Regions from separate parts of the Homo sapiens genome. Here region 2 is linked to region 1. The links come from fine-mapping of genetic effects on gene expression. Tissue or cell type: testis. Region 1 holds a variant in brackets; the other region holds the start of a gene. All regions are shown on one strand. Distances are from middle to middle.

The links. PIP is the estimated chance that this variant, and not a neighbour inherited with it, causes the effect.
Region 2: PLCB4 starts here. The variant in region 1 is fine-mapped to the expression of PLCB4 in testis (GTEx, PIP 0.99).

What each region holds. Positions count from the first base shown.
Region 1 is chr20:8,974,562-8,979,948 of GRCh38, reverse strand. No RefSeq gene overlaps it. Among named protein-coding and RNA genes, the nearest start is that of PLCB4, 92 kb to the left of the region's middle. The variant G/C (reference allele first, on the strand shown) is at 2,336.
Region 2 is chr20:9,067,061-9,072,447 of GRCh38, reverse strand. PLCB4 (phospholipase C beta 4) reads right to left here and starts at 3,361. Exons shown (of 40, transcript NM_001377142.1): 1 at 3,242-3,361.

The DNA.
Region 1 (5,387 bases):
GGCCTGTCGGGGGTTGGGGGCAAGGGGAGGGAAAGCATTAGTGCAAATACCTAATGCATGTGGGGCTTAAAACCTAGATGAAGGGTTAATAGGTGCAGCAAACCACCATGGCACATGTACACCTATGTAAAAAACCTGCACATTCTGCACATGTATCCCAGAACTTAAAGTAAAAAAAAAAAAAAGAATAGAAGGAAATACTTCCCACCAAACTCAAGATTAATGAATGTTACATTTAATCCCAATTTCAGCATGTGGCTAACTCCTAGAAACTAGAGTCCACTTGAAATCATGTTTCTATGATCCCCTCAATAAAATAATATAAAAATAATTAATAAGGTACCCACTTGCCCCAAATGAATCAAATTTACATTATTGAGTTTTGCTTCTTTTTTCCTTTTATTCTTCTTTTGTGAAAGTGCATATTAAAGAAGAAATTTCATTTCAATTAGTCAGGAAAATATAGGCAGTGGTTAACCAAGTATGGCCGATGGGCCAAATCCAGCCAGCCCTGTGCTTTGTAAATAAAGTTTATTAGAACACAATCATGCACATTCATTTACATATTTTCTATGACTTGAATAGTTGTGATCAACTGAGACTGAATGGCCCACAAAGCTGAAAATATTTACTATCTGCCCTTTATGTGAAATTTTTTTGACCCCTGATATAGGAGATTCGGGGATGTAGGGTGTCACTACAGAGGGCTTCCAAATATTTAAATTCGTAGTTACAACAAGCCACAGACCCTTTTAGCAACTGTATACTCAAGTCCTCATTTCATGTTCATGAGGGTTGTAGTAGTTATTTTGGTAATTTTCTGAATGGGCCATAGTACGAGTGATCTGATTTTTGTGTTAGCTACTTGGGCACCAACCCATTGGTTGAGGTGTAGGGTGTTGTATTTCTCAATGGATGAATCCACGTTACTTATTTACTAGATGATTGTCACAGGGGGATCTTGGTTAAACATACCATTGCATTCTGATAAAATTATCTCACATCCAATTATACCTTTTTAAATGATGTGTCAATAAAATGTATCAAGCATTGAAATGGATCATGGAATAAGCAATTCTCTCTTTTTCTTAAAAGCTCTTGATATTTGAACATTGCTTGTATTTTCTTAATACCAAGAAATAATTTCAGATGGGTTCTTTAGTGTATTCATATGGAAGGAGGGCAGGCAGCTGTTTGGAGGTCCACCATTTGTCACTAAGATGATTGTCCTGTTATTTCATGGCATTTTTAAATTCTGATTTTTCTTTTCTGATTCGGGGAAAGTCAGTGATAGAATTATATTATGATGCTTCTGTGCAAATGCACAGGATGTTGTCTCAAGTTATCTATAATAGTTTTGAATACTGTGCTTGAGAGGATTTAAGAACTGTAGAAAACATAATTTTAAAAAATTTTAGGACCCCAGTCTTCTTTAACAAATGTGCTATATAGTACTTATATATCATAGACTTATGGCTTTACTATACTTAATAGTTTATCACACTATTAGTATTATCATGTGTAATATAACATTAAGTATCCCTAATATAAATGTGTATATATGTATGGGTGTGTATAAACTGTATGTGCTTATAGGTGTATGTTTATTGTACAATGTGTGAAAAGCAATAATCTATAAACAAAATTGATGGTAAGACCTTGACATAGGAAACTGCCTGTCAAGGTCAGATGTTTCTTTTTTATGTAACTGAACTTGGTTATCCTGACTCCGCTATCTTTGCGAAGCTTAGAAAATGCTAATTGTGTAAAATGAAACATTCATTACTCTGCTTGCTTAGAACTTTTAGAGATAGATTTCTTCCTTTCTTTTACATTGTATTCTCAACTTTTTACTTTGACTAACTCTCCAAATCATCATACATTGCACCCATCCCAACTGTCCCAACTGTCCATTCCCAACTTTTTCAATGCTGTCTTCTATGAAGCTAGCCTTGGAGGCAGCATTCTCATGAACTCCCCTGGTTGGCAATGAGAGTATGCCGGCCTCGTCCCAAACACAGTGTCCTTTGGTCCCAATCTCTTATTTCTATCTGTTGAGTATTTCCTAATAATTCATGACTAGCCCAAACCCACCCCCACTGACAGAAGAGTTACTCAAACACAAGCTGAATGTTGATGTTGTCTTTGTTTTCTATATTGCTCTTCTAAAGAACGTACCTCCCGACCGGGCACGGTAGCTCATGCCTGTAATCCCAGCACTTTGGGAGGCCAAGGTGGGTGGATCATTTGAGGTCATGAGTTTGAGACCAGCCTGACCAACATAGTGAAACCTTGTATCTACTAAAAATACAAAATTAGCCAGGCGTGGTGGTGC[G/C]TGCCTGTAATCTCAGCTATGTGGGAGTCTGAGGCTGGAGGATAGCTTGAACCTGGGAGTCAGAGGTTGCAGTGACGAGATCATGCCATTGAACTCTAGCCTGGGCAACCAGAGTGAAACTCTGTCAAAAAAAAAAAAAAAAAGCTATACTAGAGGTCCGAGGGAGGTGCGTTTTTGTTTGTTTGTTTTTGTTTGTTTGTTTGTTTTTGAGACAGGGTCTTACTCTGTCGCCTAGGCTGGAATGCAGTGACTCGATCTCGGCTCACTACAACCTCTGCCTCCTGGGTTTAAGCCATTCTTGTGCCTCAGCCTCCAGAGTAGTTGGGATTACAGGCATGTGTGCCACCATGCCCGGCTAATTTTTGTATTTTTAGTAGAGACAGGGTTTCGCCACGTTGGCCAGGATGGTCTCGAACTCCTGACCTCAAGCAGTCCACCTGCCTCGGCCTCCCAAAGTGCTGGGATTACAAGCATGAGCCTCTGCACACAGCCTAACATAGTTTCTTTAACTTGTATGTTCATTTCCTCCCCGACTCCCAAACTGTGAGCTGACTGAGTGGAAGAACTGTCTCAATTATCTTTGTATGCCCCCAGGGGGATGTCTCTGCACACAGTTGGGGACAAGTGAACATTTGTAGAATGAAAAAATAATTCAAAATAACTTTTAAGCCTCTTATATTGGAAAGAAAGTGTAAGCAGTGGGTTTTCTTCCATGCCAATTTGACTGACCCAGTCCCTGATGCTAAAATCTAGCAAAGGTCATGGCATTTCCTAGCTGGAGAGGAATTTTAGGCCATGCACTCTAGTCATTTCAGTTAACCATCAAGAAATGTGAGACTAAGAGAGGAAAAGAAAAATAAACGTTTATACAGTACCAACTGTATGCTAGATCAGTGCTTTGCAAATGTCAAATCTTCATGGTAACCTCTTGCGTACTCACCACTTGCTATGAGGAATAGAAGCATAAAGTGAGAAATCATGGCATGGTTGACTTCAAGTGACAGGTGGAGCCTAATTACAGAGCTGAGCAGAGTGGGTTCTGTGGAGCCTCAAAGCCATGCTCATTTCCTTGCATCCTTCCCAGGCAGCCCCTGTCTTGTCTTAGTTTGGGCTGCTATAACAAAGTACCACCTACTGGGTGGCTTATGAACAACAGAAATTTATTTCTCATGGTTCTGGAAACTGAGTGGCTTATGAACAACAGAAATTTATTTCTCATGGTTCTGGATATTGGAAGTCTGAGAGCAGAGTGCTAACATGTTAGGATTCTGGTGGGAGCCCTCTTCTGGGACTGCTGACTTTTCTTTGTGTCCCTAAAGTAGCAGAGAGAGGATGAGGCAACTCTTTGGTGTCTCTTTTATATAGGCACTAATCAATTCATGAGGGCTGGGTCCTCATGACCCAAACACCTCCCAAAGGCCCCACCATCTAATATCACCACATTGGGGGTTAAGATTTCAACGTATTAATTTGATGGGGATTAGTGGGGATACAAACTTTCAGTTCATAGTAGCCCCTAAGTACAAGAACATTGTGTTGCCTGATATTAACTTAAAATCACATAATATCTAACTAACCATTTATGAGAAATACAGAAATAGAGAAGTATGTCACAACATATGACAAGGAAATCATCAGCCATATCCAGAATTAGGGAAATACTACAGGGCAAATTTATGTGTTATTTCTTCAACACATAAATGGCGTTTAAAAATGGATAGGGGCTGGGCGTGGTGGCTCATGCCTGTAATCCAGCATTTTGGGAGGCCAAGGTGGGCAGATTGCATGAGGCCAGGAGTTCGAGACCAGCCTGGCCAACATGGTGAAACCCCGTCTCTACTAAAAATGCAAAAATTAGCTGGGTGTGGTGGTGCATGTCTGTAATCCCAGCTACTTGGGAGGCTGAGGCATGAAAATTGCTTGAGCCTGGGAGGCAGAATTTGCAGTGAGCTGAGATGGCATCACTGCACTCCGGCCTGGGCAATGGAGCGAAACTGTCTAAAAAAAAAAAAAAAAGATAGGGACCATTATATAATACATGACTTATAACTTGTGAACCAACTGTAAAAAGAAAATAATTTGAGAAAACTGGGGAAGTTGAACATGAACTGGTACTAAATATTGTTACTGGTACTAAGAATTGTTGTGAGTTCTTTTTGGTATAAAACTATTATTTTGGTTATGTTTTAAAAATAATGTGTTACAGATACATGTTTAAATGATTATAGGTGGAAAGATATAGTGTCTGTGACTTACTTAAAAACACTCAGATGTGTTCTTCTCTTTGTACAATTAAAAGCATTTGTTGTTGCTGCTGTTGGTATTTGGTTTTTGTTGTTGTTTTTGTTTGTTTTTTAGCCATAATACCCAGAGCCATTAAATTGGTCTGGCTTTAAGTTCAGATACCAGTTCTACCATGGATTCTGAGGCAAGATGAAAATTCCTCATATGTGTTTAATATGACTGCATGTTACAAAAAAATCGAATTTCTCTAAAATCAAAAGTGTTTGTGGACTGATGCACTCAAGTGTAATGGAAACACTCCACTCCTCCCCTGGGAGGCAGCTGTCATTGTGGGGCCACAGTGGCCCATGCTCACTGCAAACCCTCCAAGGTTACCTGAGATGTCCCATTTGGAAGCATCTCTTTAACCCAAAGCAAGAATGTCTCCCTTCTATAGTGTGGTCATAGTGTCAATGAAAAAAGCCAAACTCTCAATCTGAGCCAAATATGATAACTGTGGCCCAAGGCACAGTCTCATGAGGTCCTGAGAAAATGTGCCCAACATGTTTGGGTTACAGCTTGGTTTTATATGCTTTAGGGAGACATAAGGTATCAATAGATACATGTGAGGTATACATTGGTCCAGAAAGGTGGGACGACTTGAAGGAGGGAGACAACTTGAAGGGAGGGGAGTTCTGATTGGCAATTCATTAGTTGAAAGAATTAAGTTATTATCTAAAGAGACCTGAAATCGATAGAACAGAGTGTCTAGGAAAGGATAAGGGATTGTGGAGACTGAGGTTATTATTATGTAGATGAAGTCTCATAG
Region 2 (5,387 bases), 92 kb before region 1:
AGGAACATGTAAAACCTTTATATCATTCTAAGGCATAACTAGATAAATAATATTACAATTTGAGAAAGTATTTCTACTTTAAAGGGTGAGGCTTTATCAAAAGCAAAACTATTAAACAAACAAATACTAAGGAATAGAAGAAAGAGCTACACAAGTTTATTCATTTTCCCAATATGAGAGGGAAATAGGAAAATGTGGAATGGACAGCACTGAGAATTAAGCAGTGTCCTTGCAAACACAGTTCACATCTGAAAACCAACAGCAAAACCACAGAAAGTCACTGCTGCCTCCCACCAGCGATGAAAAGCTGTATTTATTTCCCAACAGGCAGATAAGTCTCCTTGACAGACACTAATATGGCCTACACATTCATATATTATGAGGTGAAAAGCAACTATTTTAAAAACTTCAATCTGGACATAAAATACCAACTGTGATCATTAAAGCATCTCCATTAGTCCTTGACCTAATTTTGCATATCAAATACAGAAGTTCTTGGTTTTACAGGGACTCAACTGTGGTAGATAGACAGTTTATTAAAAGACCTGGGTCGGCGGTGCTAATCAACATGCTGTTTCACCCTTACTTTATAAGTGATCACAAACAAAAATTTAGTCACAGCCTGCTAAATAATTTTAAGTTTCAAAGAAAATTTATACTTCCTCAAAAATAGTTTACTATTAAGTGTGGAGAGCATGAGAAATCCAAAATCTTTCTTACATTACCTAAGTGCTCTAATCCGAAAAGATAAAATTTACTCTCAAGATTTCAAAATAAAAAATCAAACTCAGCTAATTACTAATTTTTTTTAATAATCTGCAAAATTTTTTCATTAATTCTGTTATTTGAGTTTTCCAGCTACATCTGAAAAACTGGGGATGAAAATTCAGACACTAAACTCAGAAGCTAATTTCACTTATATTGTTACATCCTTTCACAAATTAGCATGCTAATGTGATCACAAGGAAAACAGCACAGCAGCCCTGAAGCTCACTTTTACCTCAATTTTACTTAGAGGGTGAGGTAAAGATGAATACCAGGCAAACATTTCAATTCTTAATAAATCAAACCCCAAAATGAAGTTAGTGGTATCTTAGGAAAATACCATGTTTACTGAAATTGCCAAATATAACTGTCCCATGTTGCCAAAGTCAGCAGTATACATTAATCTAAAGACAGTTGTGTGTAATCTTGGGAAAGGCAAACTAGCTGTGCTACGGGCACTGAATGGACTCTGCTGTGGTTGAAATATTTCAGAGGTGATACAAATTTTTAAAATCTTTTCCTGCAAAAGGTTTTTGGTAACCTGTAACACTTTTTCAACTACCATATTTCTTTATCTCATAAGGCAAAAACACACCGCCTCACGATTCCAGGACATGTAAGCAGTTTAACATCACTCACATTTTCAGGCATATAAATATAAAACTTCCAATAGAGTATTTTAGAACAAAGCTTTCTGCGTGGGTATGCATTTGCAAAATAAAGGTAGAGTTATTCCGACAGATTTAAATGTGCACCCAGTGATCAAATGGAGTTAGAAATTCTGTTTTGACAGTTACTTGTAGAACAGCATTTTCAACAGCGATTAATTCAGAGCTGGGTAGTAATACCATCAAAACTAAGTTCCAACTGTTGAGTAATAATATAGTTGGAAGGAAGTGTAGTCCATAAGCTAATACATGGTACCTTTAGATATGTTATAATACGTCACATTCAAAAGGTTACTCGTCTGGCAGCAAGTCTTACGTTCATAAAAGTGCCAATAAAAATGTTTTGCCATTTCAAAAAGTGATTTTTTATGAAAACAGGTGCTCTCCAAAGATGGCAATCATTTATTAAACTACTACAGTTCAAAAGGAAGATGATATAATAGATCAATACACCAGCTAAGGATCATGCAAGACTGTCCTATGAAAAACAGCATTCTGGATTACATAACACAGATAGTGAGGGATTACACCACATGCCCCTGCTGAGCTAGACTTTTGATCTTCTGTATGATTCTATAACTGAGGCCACTCAAATTTGAAGAGTATAAAATATGAGGGTCTCAGTTCAACCACACATTTCTGAAAACAGCCGTCTTGAAAACAATAAAAGAATAAAGTTAAAATTTTACCTTCCCCCGCAACACACACACAATTTTTCTATTCTGAAAAACACAGTTGTTCAGATACTTTCTTAACCTCCTTGGAGCCTCCCCAGGTAAAGTCACCAGTTGCTTTTCCTGGTCATGTTTACATTATAAATCTGATTTCTCTTTAAGGGGAAATTCAATATCATTTTAAAATGATACATAGCTGCCTATGTTTGAATAACGTTATTTCCAGACAAAAAGAATTATTAAACAGCTATCTCCACATACCTATAACTTAAATATATAGACCACTAAGTATTACGTATATGGAAAAAAAAACACCTTTCCTGAATATTCTGGCCAAAATTAAATTTCAAATACATGTTTTAGAACAATAGCTAGAATCACTACAGAAGTTAAGAGGAAAAAAAGTTGGAAGAGTAGGGTCATCTTTCAGATATATCCATATTTATGGAAACTATAGTGGGCAGTTGTATTTCTCTCTAGGAAAATGCTAGTTTTATGATTCTAGATAAAGTTGCACTTAAACACACTTGGAAATTAGAGAATTCCATATTTCCATACTTCGATTCAGTACCATATACGAAGTCTACACTCAGAAGTATTGTACTATACAGAGTCTAATTGGTTAAAGCAAAAGCAACTTTAAAATTCTGAAAATAAGGATTTCCTTCACTAACAGGCTTTTAGGAGGCCCGAACCCTGCCCCCAATGAGTGCTAAGCCTGTCAGTGTTGTTTTAAGTGGAAACGGTCAATCATTTCTATGATTTCCCCAGAAGAGGCAAGAAGATCCACACGCATACACATTTACATGCGTTGCACGGTGCCAACTATTTCCAACCAAAATAATCATATACACGTCGAGCCGAGCTATTTCTAGCCCAGAAGAGGGTGAACGTCTGGAGAGAGTCTGAGGAAACCCAGCAGGCGATGACTGCAGGGGAAGGGGGATGGCGTCTGGGTCCCCTGCCTCCCGCGCGCACAGGGCGCCTGGCACCCGGCACCTGCACGGGGTCCCCGCTGGGCATCCGGGTGCGCGCGCGCGCGCGTCCGGGACGCACCCGCGGAAAGCAAACAAGCCCTGAGGGCCAAGGCGGGCGGGAGCATCCTCGGGCGGGACCCGAAATGCCTTTTCCTACCTGTCACTTTGCCTGGAGCTGCTGCCGGGGATGCGGCGACGGCCGCTGCCTGGAGACCCAGTGTGTACGCGCGTGTGTGTGCGCGCCCGTGTGTGCGTGTGCGTGTGTGTGTCTGTGTGTGAGAGATCTTGTTGGCGGTGCAGCTCACTTACTGCTCCCGGCGCGGCGCCACCACCCCCTCCTCGCCATAAAGAGCCGCCGCCAAGCCCCCTCCCGGCGCACCCCAGTCCCGCCCTCCCGCCTGCCTCCGCACCCCCTCCCTGGCCTCCCCGCCTCCCCGTCTCCGCGCCGCGCGGTCCTTACCTCAGTTGAGGGCGGGGGTCTCCGCCGTGGCTCCCCAGCGAGCCCACGGGGCAGCGCCGACCCGCCCGCCCACCGCCGGGCCCTGCGCGTCCCCCGCTCCGGGCCCCGCCGCCCCTCAGCGGCCAGCCGCTTCCTCCTCCCCTGCCCCCGAGCCTCCCTCCTCGTTCTCGCCTCCCGGCTCCAGAGCCCGAGCTGTCGCCTCGCAGCCCCAACCTGCCCAGGCTACGGAGCATGCCCAGTGCGGCGCGCCGGGCTGGGCTGGGGGTGGGCAGGGGCCGGGCCGGCCGCCCAGTTGCCGCGAGCCCGCAGGGCGAGGAGTGGGCGCCGACTGGGTCGGGGGCGCAGCCTCGCGAGCCGGGGGCCGAGCAGCCGAGGCAGGTGGTGGGCAGCGCCAAGAGGAGGTGGGTGGGGCATCCGGGGAAGCCGGCCCGCGGCGCGCTCCTCTGGGGTCTCCCTGGCGGCTCCCCGCGGCATGTGCCCCATGCCCAAGGGTCGGGGGCGCACGGGATGGCGCTGGGCGCAGAACCCAGGGAGCGGGGGCAGAAAAGCGGCACCCTCCTCGGATGGGAGACCCGCAGCCCGCCGTGGGCCGTGTGGAGGGGCTCAGGACTGGCCAGAACGGGGCCCCCAAAGCCGTTGGCTGGGTGGGGGACGTGCTTATTTGTTTATATTCGGTTTCATAAACCCATACAGCGCCTACAATGCGTCCTGCAGTGTTCTAAACGCTTTTTATTCATTTAATCCCTAAAACAATCTTCCAAAGAGTACTACTGCCTCTTTTTATTTCGCGGGTCTTACACAGAGCCACAGAGATTAAGTGGTTCCAAAAAGTCTTCCCACAAGTGCAACCTCAGACATGCAAATCCCCCAGACTTTGGTCCCTGGGATGCTGGGGTGCTGCTCCAGCCAGTTCCTGGCTTTTCCCGGCCCTACAACGGCCCCCAGGTGCCTCCGAGTCACACTCACACCCAGGCCCTAATGGTGTTCGGTCTGGCATCACCCTTGTGTGGACCCTCACAACGTGCTGCTCCCGAACTCCGGAGGGCTCCCTCCTCCCCACTCCGCCTCCTCCTTCTCCCGGCCGGCGGCCACCAAAACCCGGAGACGTGGCACCTGCGCATTGGGGACTGGGGCCATGCTCGCAGCTGCACTAGGCATGCTCAGCCGCCTGAGCCGGTCCGGCTGGCCAGGAGGAAAGAAAGGGCCAGACGGGGCGTGAAGTGTAAGAAATGGAGGGGGAATGTGTGTGCAAACAATAGTCCAGGCTCTGATGGGCAGGGGCAGTTGTAGATGCAAAAGACTCATTCCCCTGGCACATCCTGGCCATTTCCAGGCAGGGCTAAGAGATGGGGGTAATAATCATCAAAAGTTTAACCAACTGGGCATCCTTAAGCAAGAGGGGGCTGAGGCCCCACTGACCACTCCCCAGCTCAACTACTAAGCTGTAATTTTAGCTGAGCCTGGAAAAAAAGCTCCTCAGCAGCTGAAGCTGTCTGCCTGTGAAGAAGCCAAGAAAAATATCCCAGACCAAGTTTCCCCACAAGATTGGAAAGGAAAGATAGATCCCAGGGAAAGGCTGGTGGCTCTTCACTGTTAGGGATATTAAAGATGTGGTGATTTTGGCTGGGCGCGGTGGCTCACGCCTGTAATCCCAGCACTTTGGGAGGCCAAGGCGGGTGGATCATCTGAGGTCAGGCGTTCGAGACCAGCTTGGCCAACATGGTGAAACCTCATCTCTACTAAAAATACAAAAAAAAAAAAAAATTAGCCGGTCGTGGTGGTGGGCACTTGTAATCCCAGCTATTCAGGAGGCTGAGGCAGGAGAATCTCTCGAACACGGGAG